Homo sapiens: one gene and its partners. The protein of the gene in region 1 purifies or fractionates together with the protein of each later gene. This does not show direct contact. Each region holds a gene or a part of one and is shown in the gene's direction. Other genes may lie near its edges.

Region 1 (3,500 bases):
CAGAGTCAGATTGAAAAGTAAGTCACAATATACAGGGTTAAATAAAACCCATCTGATGAGAATTTATGGTTTGTAGGGCATGACTCCCCAGACCCCTTAGGTGGGAATTTGGGCAAGATTAAAAAATCAGAGCTTAGTCCTCAGTGTGGTTAACCAATTTGTTTCAAGCCCCATTGCTTGGCATTTCTCAATAAAGTCTGAAATTTTTAGTTTAAGTTGCTTCCACTAGCTAAGAGATTTTGAGGCAACTTGATATTTACATTTGAGTGATAACTTAGAAAGTGTCTAAAATCCTTGGTGTTTTTTTCATAACCACTTCACACTTTGTAATTGGTAACATTTTATTTGTAAAACTTTTCCCCGCTTCCATTTTCCGTAGACTTGAATTTTCTATGCTTATCACTTTATTTCTCCTTCAGGGTAAAATATTTAAAAATACAGTTCTGTGTGCCTTAGAGCAAGAAAACTCTCAACCACAGAATTTGTCCTTGCCCAGGAAAGTTTTGCTTTCCAGTTAAAGAGAGAGTTTATTTGACCAGGATAGCTCATTTTCCAATAATGGTAGATAACTAATGGTAATAATTTCAGAAATACTTCCTTTCCATAGACAGAACTTTTACTTCCCTTTGGGAAAGCAGGGAAATAGGTCTTTGAACCAGACTGCAGTTTTGGGTAATGGAGCTATATAAGGGAAAGAGATAAGTTAAATATGGGGAATAATATTCAGTGAATGAAAATAATATTTGCAGGAACATTATTTCAAGTGAATCATTTGTTTAAAATTAAATAATCTATTATTTAAGTATATGGCAGTAATTTTTGGCATTTAAAAATTTTATTTAGTTTCACAGTATCCTCTCATTCTTCTACATGCCCGGTAATTTTATGTAGTACTGGTAAAGTACCTATTATTGCACTAAATTAGGTGGTGAGAACATCTGTGATATAAACTTTCATTCTGCCTTTATTGTGTCACTAAACATTTCCATGTTCTAATTAGATTCTTTTATTTTGAAGTTTATTTTAAAAATCTTGCAGGGTACCTTGAATTAACTGAAAATATCCTAGAATGTTGCAAAATCATGTTTGATCATTGTTCCCTCTAGCTTTCTAGTTCTTCAGGAGGCCTTAGATACCTTAAAATCTGTTAATACCATAGAATCAGTTAATACCGTATCATTTTCTAATTTGACAGAACAGGTGATGGGATGGAAGGATGTCTCATAAGTTATACTGTATGAGTTTTGGAAAAGGAGTATGGAATTGCCAATAGATGAAGACATTAAAGTATTGAAAATACTAAATATTTAGATATTTTGCAACTTGTAACATTTGACCACTTTCCTTATTAGTTGCTTATTAGTTTTGTATATCACATTGACCCAAACCTTATTAATCACAATTCATTAAGTAGGTCACCCAGTGCTTTCATTATTCTTTATTCGGTAACCATAGCTGCTGGCAACTGGTGACTTTTTTGGTGGGAGGGAGGGAGGATACAAAGAAAGACGATAACAGATTTGAAATTAAGGGAAAGAATAAAGTTATGACAGTTAAAAGCAGGTCCTATCAAAGATTTATGATGGCAAGTTAGAACATCTTTTTTTTCTTGGAAAAATAACATCAAGTTTTTATTCTTAGATACCATTTTTTAAGATGACAAGCACCCCGCTACTTTTTTTGTCACACTCTAAAATATAATGCATTAGGTCACAATTTATCTGAGTTACACTTCAGTCTCCTTGAGGAGATTTAAGAAAGGTCTTGGTATCTTCAATATTGTAGTTATAAGCCACCTTAGTTGGTAAAGTTTTGAAATACTGTTCTCAAGTTTTTGAAATATATGTGTTTGAGGGGATTACATCCCACTGTGTGTTCAGGTAAGTATTCATTGGAAACACTTTGGTAAAAATGTCACTTGAAGGCCATGTGACTTAAAGTGGAAACCAGATATTGTATTGTAACCTTTATATGTTCTCTGTCAGTTTCTGATACCATTTTATAACTCACATATTAGATATATTTTTAAAGCTATAAAACAAGTTTGTGGCATTCCTTTTGGCTGCGTGATGAGTTATTTTTTTTACTTGCCTACATTCTCCCTCATTAACTATTAAGTAAGTACCTTTTATGTATTAAGTACTGTAGCCACTAGTGACACAAAGTATGTACCTCAGAATACTCTCAGGAAGCATCCTTCCAACTGAGAAAAACAAATGAAAAATTGAAATGATTTGAGGAATGTGTTAAAATGGAACATTATTGCAGTATACTGAGCTGGGATAAATAAAGGGAGTGATTATCTTTACTTGGGGAATCACTTTTAGGTGGAAATATAGAAATTCAGTTTTTAAAAATGATTGGGGATTTACCAGGTTAATGAGGGAGGAAAGAACAATATAGGGGAGAAGCAATAATATAAAATAGCATGGTAAATTTGTGGGACTCTGGTTATTTGGTGTTCTGTATTGATTGTGTAGAGATATCAGACGAGAAGAGATTCAGGATTTAGGTAAGAATTTAAAAAAAGCTTTGGACTTGATCCTTTTGGTAGACAGCTACTGAGAAACCTTAAATTTGAAATGTCCTGATTGGATTATAATCATATCCACATTACTCTAAAGAACAGTATGCTACTAACTGGTGACTGTTGTATTAATTCAGATTATATGTAATGAAGTTTGAACTGTATTAGTAATAGGAGAGGGAAAGATCAGAAGGAAGTAACCATTTTGGAGGGCCATTGCATACGGACCTCCAAATAGTGGTGGAGAAGGAGACTGGGTTGATTTAGAGGTTTTCTGGCATAGATTACAGGGTTGATGATACAATGAATAGTTCAGGGAAAGAAGGAGTAATGGGTTTTACGTGAAGTATGAGTTCAGGATTAAATAATGATTTTGAGAAGCCTATGATAAATCTAGAAATGAGGGGTAAGGGATTGCATTTCTGTTAGGCAATACTAAGGAGTACAGGCATAAGGTCTGAATTAGAGATAGAAATGTGAGATTCATGTCTTGTAGGTTTTAGGAAAGTTGTGAGCAGAAGAATAAAAGATCTCTAACAAATTAATAAAAAGGCAAATAAATAGAAATAATGGGCAAAAAGCTTGCACAGGAACTTCACAAAAGATGATATGCAAATGACCAATAAGCATAAGAAAATGGGGTTTATCTTCGTTAGACATTATAGAAACACAAAATGAAACCACAGTAAGATACCATCCACTAGAATGCCTAAAATAGAAAAAACAAAGAAGAAGTGATACTTGTGGAGCAACTGGAGCTTTCACTGCCTGTGGGAATATACATTTGTACAGCTATTTTAAAAAACTGACAGTATATTCTAAGGTTGAGCAAATGCATACATTATAACTGGTGGTATACTGGTAAACTGTGTGTGTGTGTGTGTGTGTGTGTGTGTGTGTGTGTGTGTGTGTGTGTAAGAGAAAGAGAGTATGATTGATATGTCATGTAGTCCCACCATGGTCAATTTCAAGC
Region 2 (3,500 bases), on another chromosome or scaffold:
CAGGTCACGGTGCTCAGGCCCCTTCTCCGGGTTTCCCTGCAGAGTAAAAATGCGCCCCACAGCCAGGGCGAATACGACGTGTACAGCACTTTCCAGAGCCACGAGCCGGAGTTTGACTATCTCAAGAGCCTGGAGATAGAGGAGAAGATCAACAAGATCAAGTGGCTCCCACAGCAGAACGCCGCCCACTCACTCCTGTCCACCAACGGTGAGGCGCTGCCCGGCCTCGCTTGCATGGGCACAGGCCGTAGATGTTTCTACCAAATGCTGGTTTGTATTTCACTTATATTGTGAGCATTTTTCTATGTCTTCAGAACGCCTAGAAAATAATATCCTTTTTGAGCAGCATATAAATCCCATGAGTGAGTATGCCAGACCCCCTCAGACGCTCCCTGTGTCTGGACACAGGGCTGCCCCCCTTTTTGAGCAGCATGTAAATCCCATGAGTGAGTATGCCAGACCCTCTCAGAAGCTCCCCATGGCCAGACACAGGGCTGCCCCCTGCTGTGAATAGAGCCATCCGAGCCATCTTTGTAGGCCTTTGCTTTGGGGTGAGGGAGTGTGATGGACAAGGATGCAGGTCGCAGACACGGGGGATATTTGACACAAAGTGAACCCCTCCTCCCCACGCCGAATCCAGACCCCTAGACTGGGGCTGTCACCGCGGCCTTGCGGGGCAGTGGGAGGAGCCTTGGTTTAGGACCCCGGCCGGCCTCTTAATCCTCTTGCCTCAGGGAGGAGCATGTACCCCTCAGGCACCGGAGGCTCTCGGCCTGACGCCTGCTTCCCAGGCTCCACTCTGAGGGAGTGGCTGGGGCTGTCCTGCTTGGCTCACCATGGGCCTGGGTCCCCCACTCACGCCCCCTGCCCATCCTCCTTCACCTGGGCCCCCTGCGGACCCAGGCAGCCTGGGGTCGGGTAGGACACACCTGGATTCTTTTTTTTCTTTTTTTGAGAGACAAGAGTCTTGCTCTGTCACCCAGGCTGGGGTAGAGTGGCGCGATCTCTGCTCACGGCAACCTCCGCCTCCCGGGTTCAAGCAATTTTTCTGCCTCAGCCTCCCGAGTAGCTGGAATTACAGGCGTCCAACACCATGCCCAGCTAATTTTTGTATTTTTTAGTAGAGACGGGGTTTCACTACATGTTGGCCAGGTTGATCTCGAACTCCTGACCTCGGGTGATCCGCCTGCCTCAGCCTCCCAAAGTGCTGGGATTACAGGCATGAGCCACTGTGCCCAGCCAGGACACACCTGGATTCTGTCCCTGCCCTGCCTCCCTTGGGCAGTGACCTTGCTTTCCTGAGCCCCAGCAGGGTGGACACATCTCCCTTCTGGGGTCCGTGAAATGGTGCCCACTCAACCCCCTGAGAACAGTAACCGCTGCACAAGCACCAGCCAGGCTTCGAGGTGCTGTCCCCACGCCTTCCCCGAGGACGTCCACGCTCCTCAGCGGGGCCTCCAAGGCTCTCCCGAACATGGCTAGGCGCAGCTTCTGCCAGCCCGCCTGTGCCTGAAGGCTATCCTCGCCCTGTACCTGGCCAACTCCCTCCTCATCCCATAAGCCTTGCTGGGTGCCCGCCTTTTCTGACCTCTCCACTGAGCCAGGCATCCCTCCTGTGACACCCTGGCTCCTCTTAACTCCGGTTCACCCCCTCTCTGGGCACCTGCTGTTCTGATGGTGTTCTCCCGCCATGCACCTCAAAGGCAGGATCTGTGTCCCCTAAGGGGCCCTGCCCAGCAAATCTGTCACCTGAGCCAGCAGAGCATGAGAGATCCTCCCGAAGGGCAGGCCCTGGGGGACAGGAGCCTCGTCCTGTCCCCATGCACCTGCTCCTTTTGAAAATATTTAAGAAGGACGTGTCAGCCACATGCGGTGGCTCATGCCTGTAATCTCAGCACTTTGGGAGGCTGAGATGGATGGATTACTTGAGCCCAGAAGTTTGAGACCAGCCTGGGCAACGTGGTGAGACTCTATCTCTACAAAAAAATAAAATATTAGCCAGGTGTGGTGGTGAGAGCCTGTAGTCCCAGCTACTCAGGAGGCTGAGATTGAAGGATCATCTGAGACCGGTAAAGTCAAGGCTGTAGTGAGCTGAGATGGTGCCACTGCACTCCAGCCTGGGTGATGTGAGTGAGACCCTGTCTCAAAAGAAAAAAAAAAAAAGACATGTCACTTTCTTCCTGCCTCTCTACAGAAAAGGTCATCTTTCAGCACTCCCTACACTCCGCTCCCCTCAAAGCTTCCCACCTGGGTTTGAATCCTGGCTTCACTCTTTCCTAATGGCAGGGCCTTGGGTACCTTTCAGATGCTCCACTGACCCCAGTTCTCAGTTCTCTTCCCAGTTCCTTCTCATCAACATGGTGCTATTTGTTTTGACTCCTGTAGTAGTCAGGGTTCTCCAGAGAAAAAGAATCAGTAGGGTATGAGAGTGAGAAAGAGAAAGGGGGATTTATTTTAAGGAAGTGGCTCACCTGACTGCGGAGGCTGGCCGTTCCGAAATCTGCAGGGAGGCCGAAGGCTGGAGGCCTCGAGACAGAGCTGCAGTTCTGGTCCAAAGCCGTCTGTTGGCAGAACCCCCTCCTTCCCCAGGAGGTGCCTCATGATTTCACCTTCTAAAGTGGATCTTCTCTTCCATCCGGCTGCTTAATTATGTGACTCGCTTTATTTTGTTCTGTTTTTAAAGATAAAACTATCAAATTATGGAAGATTACCGAACGAGATAAAAGGCCCGAAGGATACAACCTGAAGGATGAAGAGGGGAAACTTAAGGACCTGTCCACGGTGACGTCACTGCAGGTGAGCTCCGGTGAGGGGGAAGCAGGCACACGCCTCTTTATTACACCTGAGGATTTTAGGGCTGGAAAAGCCTTTGAGATTTGAGCCAGAGTCAGGTGCAGACCCTGGTTGGGCTGCTGGCTGCTGGGCGGCCACGGGCGTCTTCCTGCCCCTTGCCTCAGTTTCCTCACCAGCAGCATACAGATGACCACGTTTCTTCTAGGCTTCTTGTGAGCATGCAGGGGTGGTGTATGGCTGTAAAGTGCTTTTCACCTATAGCTGAGGGTGGAGAGCAAGGCAGATAATCCCTTGTTATAAGAAGGGGGAAACTGAGGCCCAGAGAGAGACAGCAACTCACCTAAAACTGCTCAGCTGAGTGAGTAGGCAGAGGCAGAAAGAGAATGGGTCAGCAGAGCTTTGTGGCTCCTGAGTCCTTTACTGAGGGCAGAAGGAAGCCTGGACCGTGTGAGGCCTTCAGCATCTACAAAGGCCTGAAACAGACATACCCTGAAACAGACACACACGTGCCCAGCATCCAGTGAGCCGCCATAAATATAAAGCAGTAGTCAGTGCTCTTCCTGAGAAGAAGAAATAAATGTTTAAATACATTGGCCTAAATGACTGGCAAATTGCACAAATAAATTCTGAGGAAGTGGGCAGCCGATTAGCTTCGATGTTGAGTAATGAGGGTGCTGGTGCCCCCTGCCCCACCCCCCGTCCCAAGA
Region 3 (2,919 bases), on another chromosome or scaffold:
AGCTTTTGATTATATTTTGTTTTTACTAAAAATCACTAGTTATGATTTAAGAGAACTGTCAAAATAGCTGAGTTACACGTGATAATGTTCTTTCCTTTCTGCACATGATGTTAGTTTGGTACAAGTTCTAAACAGCAACCAAGTTATTACCAGAAGTAGTCCATATATTGTAATCTTGATGATTGAAGTGTTACGTTCACTTTGGGTGTTAACTCTCACTGTTGAAGAAGTGACCATTATTTTAAGATGATTTACTTCCTGACTTAAATATAATATAGCAGTAGATCTTTGAGACAATGCTTTTTTAATATTGTCTTCTTTAATCTTTTTTATTATGTTTGGGCTCTTTGTGTTTTTGACAGGCCTTAGGCTACTTTCACAGGGCAGAACAAGGTAAGGTATTTTTGATTACACATATTAATATAGTTAAAATTGTATGAATGCTGAATATATACTATAATAGCAATGTCTAAAGCAGTTGTTTATTCTGTTATACTTATTTTTGTGCTAGATACTGTAAAACAATTTTTAAAGTCTTTATTCAGTAAAGATCACCTGAATGAGAAATAGGCTGCTATTGAACTTAGAGCTGCAGTTCTGGAATGTCTATCATTTGATGTAATTCTGCTTCCTTTGTGAGAGCAGTCTCTGACATGGTAATTGTCTTATTCAAGACTGCACATATTGGCCAGATGTGGTGGCTAACACTTGTAATCCCAGCACTTTGGAAGGCCAAGGCAGAAGGATCACTTGAACCCAGGAGTTTGAGACCAGCCTGGGCAACATAGCGAGACCTCATCTCTACCAAAAAATAAAAATAAAAATTAGCCAGGTGTGGTAGCACACACCTGTAGTCCCAGCTACTCAGGAGGCTGAGGCAGGAAGGTCACTTGAGCCCAGGAGTTCCAGGCTACAATGAGCTGTGATTGCACCACTGCACTACAGCCTGGGCCACAGAGTGAGACTTGTCTGAAAAAAACAAAAAAAGATTATGCATCTCATTAGAGGCATTTAAATGGGAATTCTGCTATTCAGCCAGGCTAGTTCTATTGCAGATATTGTGAAAAAGAGTTTCGGGTTATGTTTGTTTTGAAAAAATGACTAGTCCTATGAAACTGCCACCAGCCCATCCTAAATTTATCCTTTTTAATATTCATACACCAAGTGGGGGAGATAAGAGACATAAGCATATGATACCAAATAGACCATAAAAACCATTGAAATATATTCTATAAAACTTAATCAGGAGAAGACATACCATGTTTATTAAATTTGAGATCCCACACATAATGGACTTGTTCATTTCATGATAACAGTTATCTTCTACAGAATTTTATCTGAATGTTTTATCTCTGTAATTCATCAATTCTGATTTATTCATTATTACCTTCACTGATACCCTCTCTTGATCATACTGTTTCACATATCATGAATATGAATCTAGGGATGACTTTTTTTAACAGATTTAAAAGTTAATTACAAAGTAAAAATATAGGACCTTAGAGACTTAAGGGTTGGGGGTGTTGAGAAAAACATGGTCCTACCCTCATGGAGCTAAAATAATCCCTGGTAACTTCAGTCATTCTTGAGTGACCTTACCTTATTTCTTTCTGGCCTATATTCAGTTCAGAGGCTCCTCTGATGCCCTTAGTATCTTTTATTTTTCCAGTGATACTTATCACTCAATACTATGAACATTTACATGTGTAAGACTGTACATTCTGAGAAGATGTGGACTTTGTCTTTTCTGGCTCACAATTGCACACTCATTACTTGGCACAATGCTTGGCAAATCTGTTGAATGACTGAGTAAATAGATGAATGATCGGATGATTGAATATACGAATATATTTAACCCCAGGACAACTTAAGTATATCAACATGGCATCACACAAATCTGCTCAAATAAAAGAAGTAAAACAATTTTGGTTAAGGAGCAAATGGAGTTAATCATTAATTGTATACAGGAAAAAGTATGCTTTGAATACAGAGGATCTCAGATTGTTAGGGGGACACTTTGTGAAGAATTAAGTTGGTGAGATAATTCCATGTTTTCATTCATAGGCTTTCTGTTTATGCTTTTCTTTCAGCCAAGAATGTTCTCCACTTTTTTTTTTGGTTTCTTGTAGCAGTTCAAAGTTTGTATATCTAGTAAAGCATTCCTTTCATTTTTATATTACATTTAGTTGTGTTCATGTTTCTCTCTTCATTATAAAGTTGAAAAAAACAGAGGTTTTGTTTCATCCTCTATGTTTAAGTATAGCTGACATCCAGTAAATGTTGATCAAATATATATATGTCATCATCATTTCATTCACTTATTCAGCCGATGTACACTGAATGTATGTTATGTTTCACACACTGTTGTAGGCACGTGGGGTACCATAGGGAACTAAAGAGATTAAAAAGAGTATTGCTGTCCTCAAATAGCATACATTCTATCGGGAGCTTCAGCTTCTCATCTATAAAATGGAGATACCTACTTACAAAGTTGTGAAAATGAGAAATGTGTATAATGCAGTGCCTAGCACATTTGTAGATGTTTATTCATTGGTAATTATTATTTTACAAATATTTGTTTGAGATATAAACAGTTGAACAAAAGAGAATTCCCATTAGTCTAATCACTTATTGACCACACAAATTTATTGAAATTTAGACCTCAGAAACAAACCTTTAAAAATAAAAGCAACACTGTTTCCTCTGAGATCATTTTTTCTTTCTTATGTGCAGTGGATCCAAACTTCTACAGCAAAAACTTACTTCTTTTAGGAAAGACATACTTGAAACTACACAACAAAAAGCTTGCTGCTTTCTGGCTAATGAAAGCCAAGGACTATCCAGCACACACAGAGGAGGATAAACAGGTAAAACATCTCCCATAAAGTAAGGCAGAAAGGTTTTGAGGCACTATTAAAT
Region 4 (3,500 bases), 6.7 Mb from region 1:
AATATAGGACAGGATTAAGCTCAGTTTGAAATTCTGGTGCCTAGAGTTGACAACAGATATAAATGAAGTGAGATATTAGACGGATGGAGCAACTCACACAAGGGAAATCTGAGGTCAAAAGATGTGTGATCGGCCCACGGTCACACAGAGGATGGTGCAGAACTGACCCTGGTGGCCTCTGGCCCAGGAGATTCAATACTGACTTCTACTTCAGCTCCCAGGCTTCCTTTATTTCATGATCCAAACAATTGGCTGGGGACAGAGTCCTCTTAAGTTTCCCTTCACCCCCAACTGTCCAAAGGTTCAGAAAACAAGAACAATATTTACTGTATGAGTGCAGGTTGTCAGCACTGCAGAACTCTCTGGCACTGGGACCCAGAACATGAAGAACGGGACTCACGAACTCAGCTGAAAGGACTGTCCTTTATCCCCTCTGAAGATGCCACAGTCTGGAATTTAAGAAATACACGCTTCTGCTCAGCAGATGAACATTCTAAGGCAGTTGTTCTCAAAACGCTTTTAAAGCTGTGAACTCCTTTTTCCTAAATGGAAGCTGGGCAGGTGGTGAGTATGTAAGATGTAACTGTAACTAAGTTCCTACTGAGTGCTGTTCTCCCGGGTTTAGCTTAAAATGGGCCCCCTGGAATTTCGTCAGGCCTGGCTTTCTCAGGCTTCGTCAGTCAGCTCTAGGGGAAGTCAACTTGTAAAAGAGACGGAGACTTGGAAACAAACTCATCCTTAGGGAAGAGGGAGTCAGGCCAACCAGCTTGGGCAGATGTCAGAGCTTTGGTTGTGAGAAGACAGATTCTAGTAAGAGGCCAGTTACCTTGGGCAGACCCAGGCATCTCAGAGTTTTTGATGCTGGGCCATTCCCATTTTTCCACACTTTCTATATATTAAAAACAATTAAGCATCAAAACCCGTGACAAAAATTATAGTGCTTTAAAAACATATGTATTTAACAAGTCAACATCTGATAACAATGATTGTGTCTACTGTGATACGTATTTCCAAGGAAATAACAGGTTTTTTTGTTGTTGTTGTTTTGTTTTTTCTGAGATGAAGTCTCGCTCTGTCACCTAGGCTGGAGTAAGATGGCGCGATCTTGGCTCACTGCAACCTCTGCCTCCCAGTTTCAAGTGATTTTTGTGCCTCAGCATCCTGAGCAGCTGGCTAATTTTTGTATTTTTAGTAGAGATGGGGTTTTACCATGCTGGCCAGGCTGGTCTCCAACTCCTAACCTCAGGTGATCCGCCTACCTTGGCCTCCCAAACTGCTGGGATTACGGGTGTGATCCACAGTGCCTGGCTGGAAATGACAGGATTTTTAGACGTGTTCATTTATGGAGGACCACTTGCTCTTCTGTGTGGTCATGAGACCAGATTTAAACATAAATATCTCCCCTTTCAGTCCAGTCAGCGTATCTCTGTGACTGTACATTTAACCTCACTTGGAAATCACATCAAAAGTCTAGATTTGAGGCTTTTCACCACTGTGAGCACTGGGCAAATGGCTCCTCTGGGATCTCTTGGGAAGGGAAAAGGCTGCGAACATGGTGGGAGATGTTTCTCTGCAAACTCTGGGTGCTATGCATCGTACGCGGCAGTGGTCTTGCTCCTCTCTAAGGATGTGTCACCCAGAGAGAGCAGAGAGGTTGCCACAGACCCCCTCCCAGGCTCTGAAGCAGCAGCAGACACACGCTGCAGGAAGCCTGCCCTGCCAGGGCCTGGCAGAGCCAGACCAAGCCAGCCTGAGAGCAGCCGGCCAAGAGGTTGGGCCCATCTGAGCAGGCTGAGATTAGCTGGTGCACACCAGCATGCCTGAACCAGTTTTTACAGCCATTCTGATAGGTCGGTGCCTCTGTCCTAGTTGTTAAATATTCTCAACATCACCGTTCTCTCTGTCAGATTACCAACAGTTGCTGAAGCAGCTGAGAGCCCAGGAATAGGCCTGGTGGTAGCTGATAGGACCTGAATATGAGCCCACAGGGTATCTTTCCTGTGAATTCTCAAGAGGGTGGTCTTTAGTGGTCTAGAGCTTACACTAGTTGGTAGAGACAGAACTCAAAATACACTGAATCTACCTTGGAGCAGCCGAAGGAAGCTGAGATTTGCATGTGTAGATAAAAGATGAATCCACCAACTTGAAATTGCAATTTTTAATTGCTGTAGGTATGTAGGATTTTATTATTCATTCAAGAATAGTTCATTTTAGAATCACGGTTTCATAGGGAGCATTTTCTCGGTACTATCTAGCCTTTGGGTTAAAAAAGTTCTGAGAGCTCTAAAGGGCCCTCCATTACTATGCAACAGTTGAAACAGCTATTTACTCAGTGTATGAGCAAGAACGGGTTATATAAGATTTTAAAATTGAATAGAGTCAGAGCTCCTTCATTCAGTATTTTTTCTCATGAACAGTCTCCCCCAGAAGGATGAGTTATTGAAAAAATTAATGCAATGGAAGCCACTTAAAAGATACCAAGTTATGGTGATGAGAAAGGAAAAGTTGGAATTGGCTCCTTCCCAAGAGGCTATTTGACCAAATATCAAATGCGGATGATTTTTCATCCCTTCTTCCCTTCAAAAGTACTCAATATCAGTTAATGTCACTGAACGTGACATCCCCCAAAATACTTCCCAGCTGAAACTGAGTCAAATATATTACCTTTAGAGTAAATCATAAATTCAAATTTTTTTTCTGTATTATTTTGTTTTGCCTTTGCACACTGGTATCATTTTTCTTCCCATGTTGTAGCACACTTATTTTATGCATTTGCTAAATGACTATGCCCCAGTAATACTAATCATTCTTTTTAAAAATGTAAGACAGAGTTTTGCTCTGTCATCCAGGCTGGAGTATAGCCTCAGCTCACCGCAACCTCCACCTCCTGGGTTCAAGCAGTTTTCGTGCCTCAGCCACCCAAGAAGCTGGGATTACAGGCACTCACCACCACACCCGGCTAATTTTTGTATATATATATTTTTTTTTAGTAGAGACGGTTTCACCATGTTGCCCAGGCTGGTCTCGAACTCCTGGCCTCAAGCAATTCACCCGCCTCAGCCTCCCAAAGTGCTGGGATTATAGGCGTGAGGCACCGCTGCCCACCTAATTATTCTAAACAACTTAGTAGAAATAATAGTAAGACTAAAATAATTTATTACATCATTCTAGTTTTAGGAGATTTCATTATTTTTGAACAATGATTTATTTTATACTGTTTTGCCAAAATTCCACGGAGAAAAATGCAATTCTTGTTTGACTTTTAGGAATATATTTTTTAAGTAAAGCAAGTGTAATTTAATTTTAAACTGTTAAATTGTGATTGCCTTGGAAGTAGCTGCTTCTCAGACAACTCATGACTCAGGTCTGCCTGGCATCACTGGGCTCTGGAGCTGTTAGCAGTGCCCATTATTATTTTATACAAAATGTCTTGCTCCCACACACATTTCCACACTTTATGGAAGTTAGAGTTGGGAGTTATGAGTAATACTAATTAAAAA

The links.
Region 2: the proteins of ECHDC1 (region 1) and PPP2R2C purify together in Homo sapiens (co-immunoprecipitation; one large-scale study listed by IntAct). This does not show direct contact.
Region 3: the proteins of ECHDC1 (region 1) and RMDN1 fractionate together in Homo sapiens (co-fractionation; one large-scale study listed by BioGRID). This does not show direct contact.
Region 4: the proteins of ECHDC1 (region 1) and SLC2A12 purify together in Homo sapiens (co-immunoprecipitation; one large-scale study listed by IntAct). This does not show direct contact.

Annotation. Positions count from the first base shown.
Region 1 is NC_000006.12:127,333,610-127,337,109, reverse strand, and holds part of ECHDC1 (ethylmalonyl-CoA decarboxylase), read left to right. Parts: intron 1-3,500. UniProt on the Homo sapiens protein: Decarboxylates ethylmalonyl-CoA, a potentially toxic metabolite, to form butyryl-CoA, suggesting it might be involved in metabolite proofreading. Acts preferentially on (S)-ethylmalonyl-CoA but also has some activity on the (R)-isomer.
Region 2 is NC_000004.12:6,375,115-6,378,614, reverse strand, and holds part of PPP2R2C (protein phosphatase 2, regulatory subunit B, gamma), read left to right. Parts: intron 1-42; coding exon 43-208; intron 209-2,683; coding exon 2,684-2,796; intron 2,797-3,500. UniProt on the Homo sapiens protein: The B regulatory subunit might modulate substrate selectivity and catalytic activity, and might also direct the localization of the catalytic enzyme to a particular subcellular compartment.
Region 3 is NC_000008.11:86,474,768-86,477,686, reverse strand, and holds part of RMDN1 (regulator of microtubule dynamics protein 1), read left to right. Parts: intron 1-362; coding exon 363-393; intron 394-2,090; coding exon of another isoform or gene 2,091-2,152; exon of another isoform or gene 2,153-2,293; intron 2,294-2,733; coding exon 2,734-2,867; intron 2,868-2,919.
Region 4 is NC_000006.12:134,046,125-134,049,624, reverse strand, and holds part of SLC2A12 (solute carrier family 2, facilitated glucose transporter member 12), read left to right. Parts: intron 1-3,500. UniProt on the Homo sapiens protein: Insulin-independent facilitative glucose transporter.